Linked DNA regions of Homo sapiens. The protein of the gene in region 2 interacts with the protein of the main gene of each other region in a biochemical or structural test. Each region holds a gene or a part of one and is shown on either strand. Other genes may lie near its edges.

The links.
Region 1: the proteins of SRGN (region 2) and MBL2 form a complex in vitro, tested with the Homo sapiens proteins (one study listed by IntAct).

The regions. Positions count from the first base shown.
Region 1 is NC_000010.11:52,765,858-52,769,990, forward strand, and holds part of MBL2 (mannose-binding protein C precursor), read right to left. Parts: intron 3,459-4,133; coding exon 3,390-3,458; intron 2,654-3,389; coding exon 2,280-2,653; 3' UTR 1-2,279. UniProt on the Homo sapiens protein: Calcium-dependent lectin involved in innate immune defense. Binds mannose, fucose and N-acetylglucosamine on different microorganisms and activates the lectin complement pathway.
Region 2 is NC_000010.11:69,098,103-69,101,702, reverse strand, and holds part of SRGN (serglycin isoform 1 precursor), read right to left. Parts: intron 1-3,600. UniProt on the Homo sapiens protein: Plays a role in formation of mast cell secretory granules and mediates storage of various compounds in secretory vesicles. Required for storage of some proteases in both connective tissue and mucosal mast cells and for storage of granzyme B in T-lymphocytes.

The DNA.
Region 1 (4,133 bases), about 16 Mb from region 2:
GCATATACAAAATCCAGAGGAATCTACAAATTACTAGATTTAAGAAATAAACTTATTGAGTTTACTAAACATCGTAAGACTACACACAAAACTTAACTGTATTTCTGTGTACAACAATAGAAAAGAAAAAATATTTAAAATATATTATTAAAATCACTAAAACCACCAAAACAAGATATACAAGGTTTTTAAACTAAAAATGTCAAAACATAGCAATTAAGTTAAAGAAATTCTAGTTACATGAAGCGATACATGATGAACATTGATTAGAGATTCAGTAGTAAGTTGCCAGTTCTGCATAAGTTGATTGATAGACTCAATGTGGTCCCAGTAGAAACCTCATCAGGATTTTGTAGAAATTGAGAAGCTGTTTCTAATATTTATATGGAAATCTTGACTTTAAGAAGAACAAAGCTGGACTATAGTTACAACTATAAATGTACAATAATTAAGATAGTGTACTGTTTGACACAAGCATCAACAAATAGACTAGAATAGACAGCCCAGAAACAGACACACACACATACAGTTACCTAACTTACAAAAATGCACCACCCTAGTTCAGTGGAGGAAAAATGGTCTTTCCTACATAGTGCTGTCTCAAGTGGATATCTATTCTACCAGGAATAGATAGAATGTTTATTAATAAAACTATTAGAAAAAAATGGAAAAATATCTTCATGATTTCAAAATCATGAAAAATCTCTTCATGGTTTCAAAATCATGAAAAATATCTTATGATTTTGGGATGGGCAAAAATTTCTTAAACATGACACAAAAAGCACTAATTTTGAAAGAAAATATGAATAAATAAGACTTTCTCAAAATTAGGAAATTTTGTTCATCAAAATTCAACATTAGGAGCAAGTCAAAAACTAGCAAAATATTTGTAATACACATTAAAAAGGACATATTCAGAATGTAAAAATAACTTAAAAATCAGTAAGAAAAATATTGGCTAACTAATTTAAACAAAATACAAAAATGTGAACGGGTACTTCACAAAAGAAGATACCCAAGTGCCCAATAAGCATATAAAAAAGTGTTCAACCTTATTACATGTTGGGGAAATACAGATTAAAACCATGGGGAAATATCACTTTACATCCACAGGAATAATGAAAATCAAGAGAACTGAAAACATTGACTTTTTACAAGCACATAGAGCATCTAGGACTGCCACACATTGCCGGTAGGAGCATAAATTCATACAATCACTTAGGAAAACTGGTAATATCTACTAAAGCTGAATACATGCTTTCCTCATCCTCTACCAGTTCCACTCCTGGATAGGTAGTGAAATTAGTGCACCATGTCCACCAAAAGACAAGTCCAGGAATGTTCGTGGGTTCTCTTCCTCATGGCCAAAAATTGGAAGCCACTTAAGTGCCTATTAACAATAGAATGGATGAACTGAGGAATATTAATATAAGGGAACCCTACATGGCAATGAAAAGGATGAAACTTTTGTACACATGACATGAATGAATCTCACAGACTTAATTCTGAGTAAACAAGACATACAACATTACACACAATATGATTCCAACTATACAATGTTTATAAACAGACGAAATTACTGTGCAGTCATGGAGGTCAGAATAGTATTTTCCTAGGAGTTAGTACTAGGAGGAGTTATAACGGGGCTTCTAGGGAGTCAAAAATGTCCCATATCTTAATCTAGAAAGTGAGTATATAGGTATGTATGTGTGTGAGAATTTGTGAAGCTGTTTGCTTGAGATTTGTTATTTATGTTCTTTACATGGTTTAATATCTCATTAGAAAGAAAACAGAGTTCATAGAGAAAGTTACAAAATAGATTTTCTTAATACCTGAAACTTGGTAAAAAGCTGTGGTATTAAACTGTGGTGATGTCATTAGGGGAGCCCTCTACCCAAACAGAAAGGAAGGCTCAACAGAGCACAGGTGTTTGTTGTAAATGGAAAAATAAATCCGTCTTATTTTCATACTGCAGCAAGTTAACACTATCGAAAGCATTACAGATTAATTAAACTAGATAATTAATGTAGGATGCAAAAGATAGGGCCTCATAGTATATATTAAAAATATTATATAATTAGCATGACTACTACTGCTGCTGCTAACTACTACTACTACTATTATTGCTTTGTTGGTGCTGTTAGTGATCATTTTTAGTGATTGCCCACAAAAGGAACAATACTGGATATGAGGAAATTGATATAATTTATCTTTTCAAGCATACTGTGGGCCTGTGGGTTGCAGTAAAAAGACAAGGAGGGCCTGAGTGATATGACCCTTCAGATAGGGAACTCACAGACGGCCAGATGGGAGGTGGAGCAGGGGACGTCATTCCACTGGCCATTTTTCAGTAGCAATACACAATCTTCATCAGAACCAGCATTGTTGGGTTCACCCTCGTTCCAGTTTGTGTAGGTCAGTCTATTTCCTGTCAGATCCACAAACTGCCCTTCTGTCTTCTCATCAGTGATGCCCAGGAAGGCTTCCTCCTTGATGAGATTCTGAATGGCTCCATTCTCTGCAGCATTCCTGGGGGTGGCCACAGAGGCCTGGAACTTGACACACAAGGCCTTCACTTTTTCAAAGGTCATTATTTCACCATTGGTCAGGAAGAACTTGTTCCCAACTTGTTTGCCCAGAGAGAAGGTGAGCCCTAAAATGTGAAAAAGTGGGTGAAACTGACTCATCCTTAAGCCCAACTCAAGGTATTTCTCAAGAAAAAGTCTTCTAGAGTACAGTTGCCGGATAAAATATAGTATGTCCAGTTAAATTTGAATTTCAGACAAACAATGAATATTTTAGTATATCTCCCATATAATTTTTCAGACACACTTATACTAAAAATGTTTTTCAGCTGAAATCCAATTTAACTGGTGCTTTGTCTTTTTATTTGTTAAATATGGCAACCCAAATGTGAACAGACAGACTGGTACAAAGGCCTCTCTGTGCTTTCAGATCAGAATTCTAAAAGACATATAATTTGGACTTCTGAATTCTAAATTGTTAACTTGAGACCAAACAAAAAATGTCTGAAAATATTTGCCCCAGGCAGGTTAGACCCCACGGCCAGGTCTCAATACCAGTGCAACAAAGGGATATAAGTCCCATTTTCAGTGAGCAATATCAGACGGTAAAGGATTAGGGTCTCTCGAGTCAGACTGACTTCCATCTATAAACCACCCCTGCCATTTATTAGCTCTGTGCATTTGAACAAGTAATTTAACTTCCCTTTGCCTCCATTTCTACCAAAATGTTGTGAGAATTTCATGAGGTAAGAATATGAGAAATGCCTAGCAGGGTACAGAAAATTATATGCATTCAACAAATATTTGTTGCATTCTATTTTTCCCAAACTTCAAGCTGCCTGGAGAGTAAGAGAAAAAGCTTACACTTTTTGATACGTGCCATTTCTGTTTGCAGAGCTTTTCTTTCTGAGGCAGCCAGGCTACTATCACCATCTAGAAAATTAGAACAAAGTAAAGAAGCATTGTTGAGAAGGAGCCTCAGAACTGTGCATATACAAGGGAGTGGAGTATCTTTTTCAAACTGAAAAAAAAAGCTTATTTTACATTGATGTTTACACTTTGAAGGAAAATAAAAAATACTGAAAAGCCCAAAGAATGAAAAATCGCTATTTCCATCCAACCCCAAATGTCCCTCTTTGTCTGTTTACTGTATCCCAAAGTACGCATACATATCACATGCACACATATACTCCCTGATTACCTAGCAATCCATATGCCAGGTTCTTCACAGATTTTTTTTTCAAATAAATTGTTCTATCAAAACTAAAAAGAAATCTCTTGAGGCGTTACTCTATTATGACCTGGTGAAGAGTGACGAAAAAGATTGCAGAGTTTTTGTCTTTGGAGAGGTTTTGCTTTTGATGTCTTTTGTTTTGTTTTTGTTTTTTCCAGGTTTGTTCTGTTAGTCAGGAAACCAAGATTTTTGTGAGTTGCCCATTATCCAAGTGGGGAGGGCATGAGCAAATCACTTGTTGTAGTAGATGGCAAAAATGGCCTCAATAGGGTACAGCTCCTCGCATTAAGACATGAGTCTATTACCCCACTCCTTGAATCTGGGCTGGCCTTGTGACTTGTTTTGACCAATACAGTCTGACAGAAATGATAATG
Region 2 (3,600 bases):
GGGTGGAGTGTAGGAACAGAAGTCCAGCCACAGAGGGGGTGAGGAAAGGAGGGGGCAGGCATGGGTGGCCCTTTCAGGAGGTGTTATTGTGAAGAGGAGCAGAGAAGGGCAACCACTGGAGAAGACGCAGAGTCAAAGGAGAGATGTTGCCTAAACATAGGAGATACTAAAGTCCACCCCTATACTGATGGGAAGAAGACACTGAGTTCAGAGAGATAACTGCAGAATGGAAGTCCTGGAGAAGATGCATGGGAAAAGGATACCAGCCACAAAGAGAGGTGGCCTTGGAAGCTGCAACAGCCAGGGTCCAATCAGGAAACTTCTCCAGATATTTAACACAGAGGGAATTCCTCATACAGGTGATGGAGGAGAAGTGAAGCTAAATGGGGGATAGCGAGGTAACCCAGAGATTAGCAATAGCAAGAAAATATTTCCTTCGGCCAGGCACAGTGGCTCATGCCTGTAATCCCAGCACTTTGGGAGGACGAGGCAGGCAGATCATTTGGGGTCAGAAGTTCAAGACCAGCCTGGTCAACATGGCAAAACCCCGTCTCTACCAAAAATACAAAAATTAGCTGGGCATAGTGGCACACCCTGGAGGCTGAGGCAGGAGAATCACTTGAACCCGGGAGGCAGAGGTGGCAGTGAGCTGAGATCGCACCACTGCACTCCAGCCTGGGCAACAAGAGTGAGACTCTGTAAAAAAAAAAAAAAAAAGAAAGAAAGAAAGAAAAAAATACTTCCCTCCTTGGGCTACAGCGATAGTGGAAGGAGGTTGTCTATTTCCTGAGCCCAGGGACTAGAGGCATCTGGTGGGAGCTGAGGCCATGGGCAAAACAGAGTCCTGCCCAAGGTGCCATCCCAGGCAGGGAGTAAGGAGAAGAAACATACCTCTCTCCCTTCCTCCCAAGCTCTCAGTCTCCCGTCCTTGCCTCCCATTGGCCAAAGTCAGCCACAGCCCTGGGAGCCTGAGAAATGCAGACGCCAGGGGTCAGTTCCACCGCCACCCCCACCCCACAGCCAATACAGAGCAGGGCCAGGGAAGGACAGGAGGATCTGAGGGCAAAAGGGTTTGGGATCAGCACAGAAGCAAGGACCATTCTTTCGCAATGACGGGAAAGAAAGCACAGGGTCAGGGTGAGAAGCAGTTACTGGCTTTGGGGAAGGAAAATAGAGATTTGAGAAGAGGAGGAATGGTGTGCAAGAGTTCTTTTGGAGAATTTGAGCTATTCTCTTAACATTTTATTTTATTTTTTAATTTTAGTTTTAATTGTATTTATTTATTTTAAATGTGTTTATTTATTTTGAGACAAGGTTTTAGTCTGTCACCCTGGCTGGAGTGCAGTGCCACACCATGGCTCACTTCAGCCTTGACCTCTCAGGATCAAGCAATCCTCCCACCTCAGCCTTTCGAGTAGCTGGACCACAGGCATGCATGGCTAGTTTTTGTGTCTTTCTATAGAGACGAGGTTTCTCCATGCTTGGCTAATTTTTGTATTTTTCTGTAGAGACAGGATTTCTCCATGTTACCCAGGCAGGTCTCAAAGCAATCTGCCTGCCTTGGCCTCCCAGTCTGCCTGCCTCGGCCTCTCAATAGCTGGGATTACAGGCGTGCCACCATGCCCAGCTAATTTTTGTATTTTTAGTAGAAATGGGTTTCCGCCATGTTGGCCAGGCTGATCTTGAACTCCTGACCTCAAGCTATCCGCCTCGGCCTCCCAAAGTGTTGGGATTACAGGCGTGAGGCACAGCGCCGGGCCACTAATTTTTAGAGATGGGGTCTTGCCGTGTTGCCCAGGCTGGTCTCAAATTCTTGGCCTCAAGTGATTCTCCCACCTCAGTCTCCCAAACTGGGGGGATTACAGGCATGAGCCACTGCAGCCTAACATTTTAGATTTAAATGAATTACTATTGAAACCAATGATTTAAAGTAATGAAGGATGCTGTAATATTACATTCAAACTTAATGCTGAGGCTTTAAAGTAAGAATGCAAGAGTAGGACTACAAAGTTGCATATTGAAGATTGTAATGATGTCATCACTAATGCAGTGAATACCAGTGATGGAGAAAGTCACCAGTGATGGAGAAAGTCACCAGCGCTGGGAATGGTGGCTCATGACTGTAATTCCGGCACTTTGGGAGGCTGAGGTGGGAGGACTGCTTGAGTTTAGGAGTACATGACCAGCCTGGGAAATGTACAGAGACCCCTGTCTCTACAAAAAAAAATTTTTTTAATTAGATGGGCATGGTGCTGTGTGCCTGTGGTCCCGCTACTTGGGAGGCTGAGGCAGGAAGATCACTTGAGGAGTTCGAGGCTGCAGTGAGCTATGATCACACCACTGCACTCCATCCTGGGTGACAGAGGAGACCCTGTCTCAAAAAAAAAAAAAAACAAAAGAGAAAGTTGCCAGGATCCCAAAGTGATGTGAAATGTACCTGGTTTGGAGCATGATGATTAACCCTGGCTTTGAGGAGAGTGATTTTCTAGGTTTGAGCCTGGAGATTAAAACTTTTATGATAATCCTTTTCTTAATATGTATATTTTGCTACATCCTACATAGCTTTAGTATTCATTGAATTAATGGTTTCTAATATAATTCAATTTTTTGTTACTTATGAATTTATATCAGGTCTTTTTTGCAAGTTTAAAGCAAGTTTTATGTGATCAAAAGAAGAGATTTGATTTTTGTTTTACAAGTCTTGGCTAATTATTCTTCCTTTCCCTAATTTTTTTTTTCTTTTTTTGAGACAGAGTCTTACTCTGTTGCCTAGGCTGGAGTGCAATGGCATAAATAGGGTTCACTGCAGGCTCAACATAGGCTCAAGAGATTCTCCTACCTCAGCCTCCCGAGTAGCTGGGACCACAGGTGCACATCACTATGCCTAGCTAATTTTTGTATTTTTTGTAGAGACAGGGTCTTGCTGTATGGCCCAGGCTGGTCCCAAACCTCCTGGGCTCAAGGGATCCTCCCACCTCAGCCTCCCAAGGTGCTGGGATTACAGGCATGAGCCTCTGCACCTGGCCATTTTTAAAAATAATTACCAACTACTTGAAGAACATTTTTTTAATATAAAAAATGTATTTGAAATAGAGATAGGGTCTCACTATGTTGCCCAGGCTGGCCTCAAACTCCTGGGCTCAAACAATCCTCCCGCCTCGGCCTCCCAAAGTGCTGGGATTACAGGCATGAGCCACCACACCTGGCAGAAGAACATTTTAATCACCTCCTCCAAAAAAAACCCTCATACCCATTAGCAGTCACTCCTTATTCCTCCCTTTCCCCAGCCCCTGTAACCCACTAATCTACTTTCTGCCTCTAGGGATTTGCCTATTCTGGACATTTCATCTAAATGGAATCATACAATATGTGGCTTTTGGTGTCTGGCCTTCCTTCACTCTGCATAATGTTTCCAAGGTTTATCTATGTTGTAGCATGTATCAGTACTTCATTCTTTTTATGACCCAATAATATTCCTTTGTATGCTTATACCACATTTTGCTTATCCATTCAGTTAATTATTGGATTTTTATATATAGTGTGTTCTGTTTACACAAATAAAACAATGTTCAATCATTTTCAATACCTGTTGATGAAAAG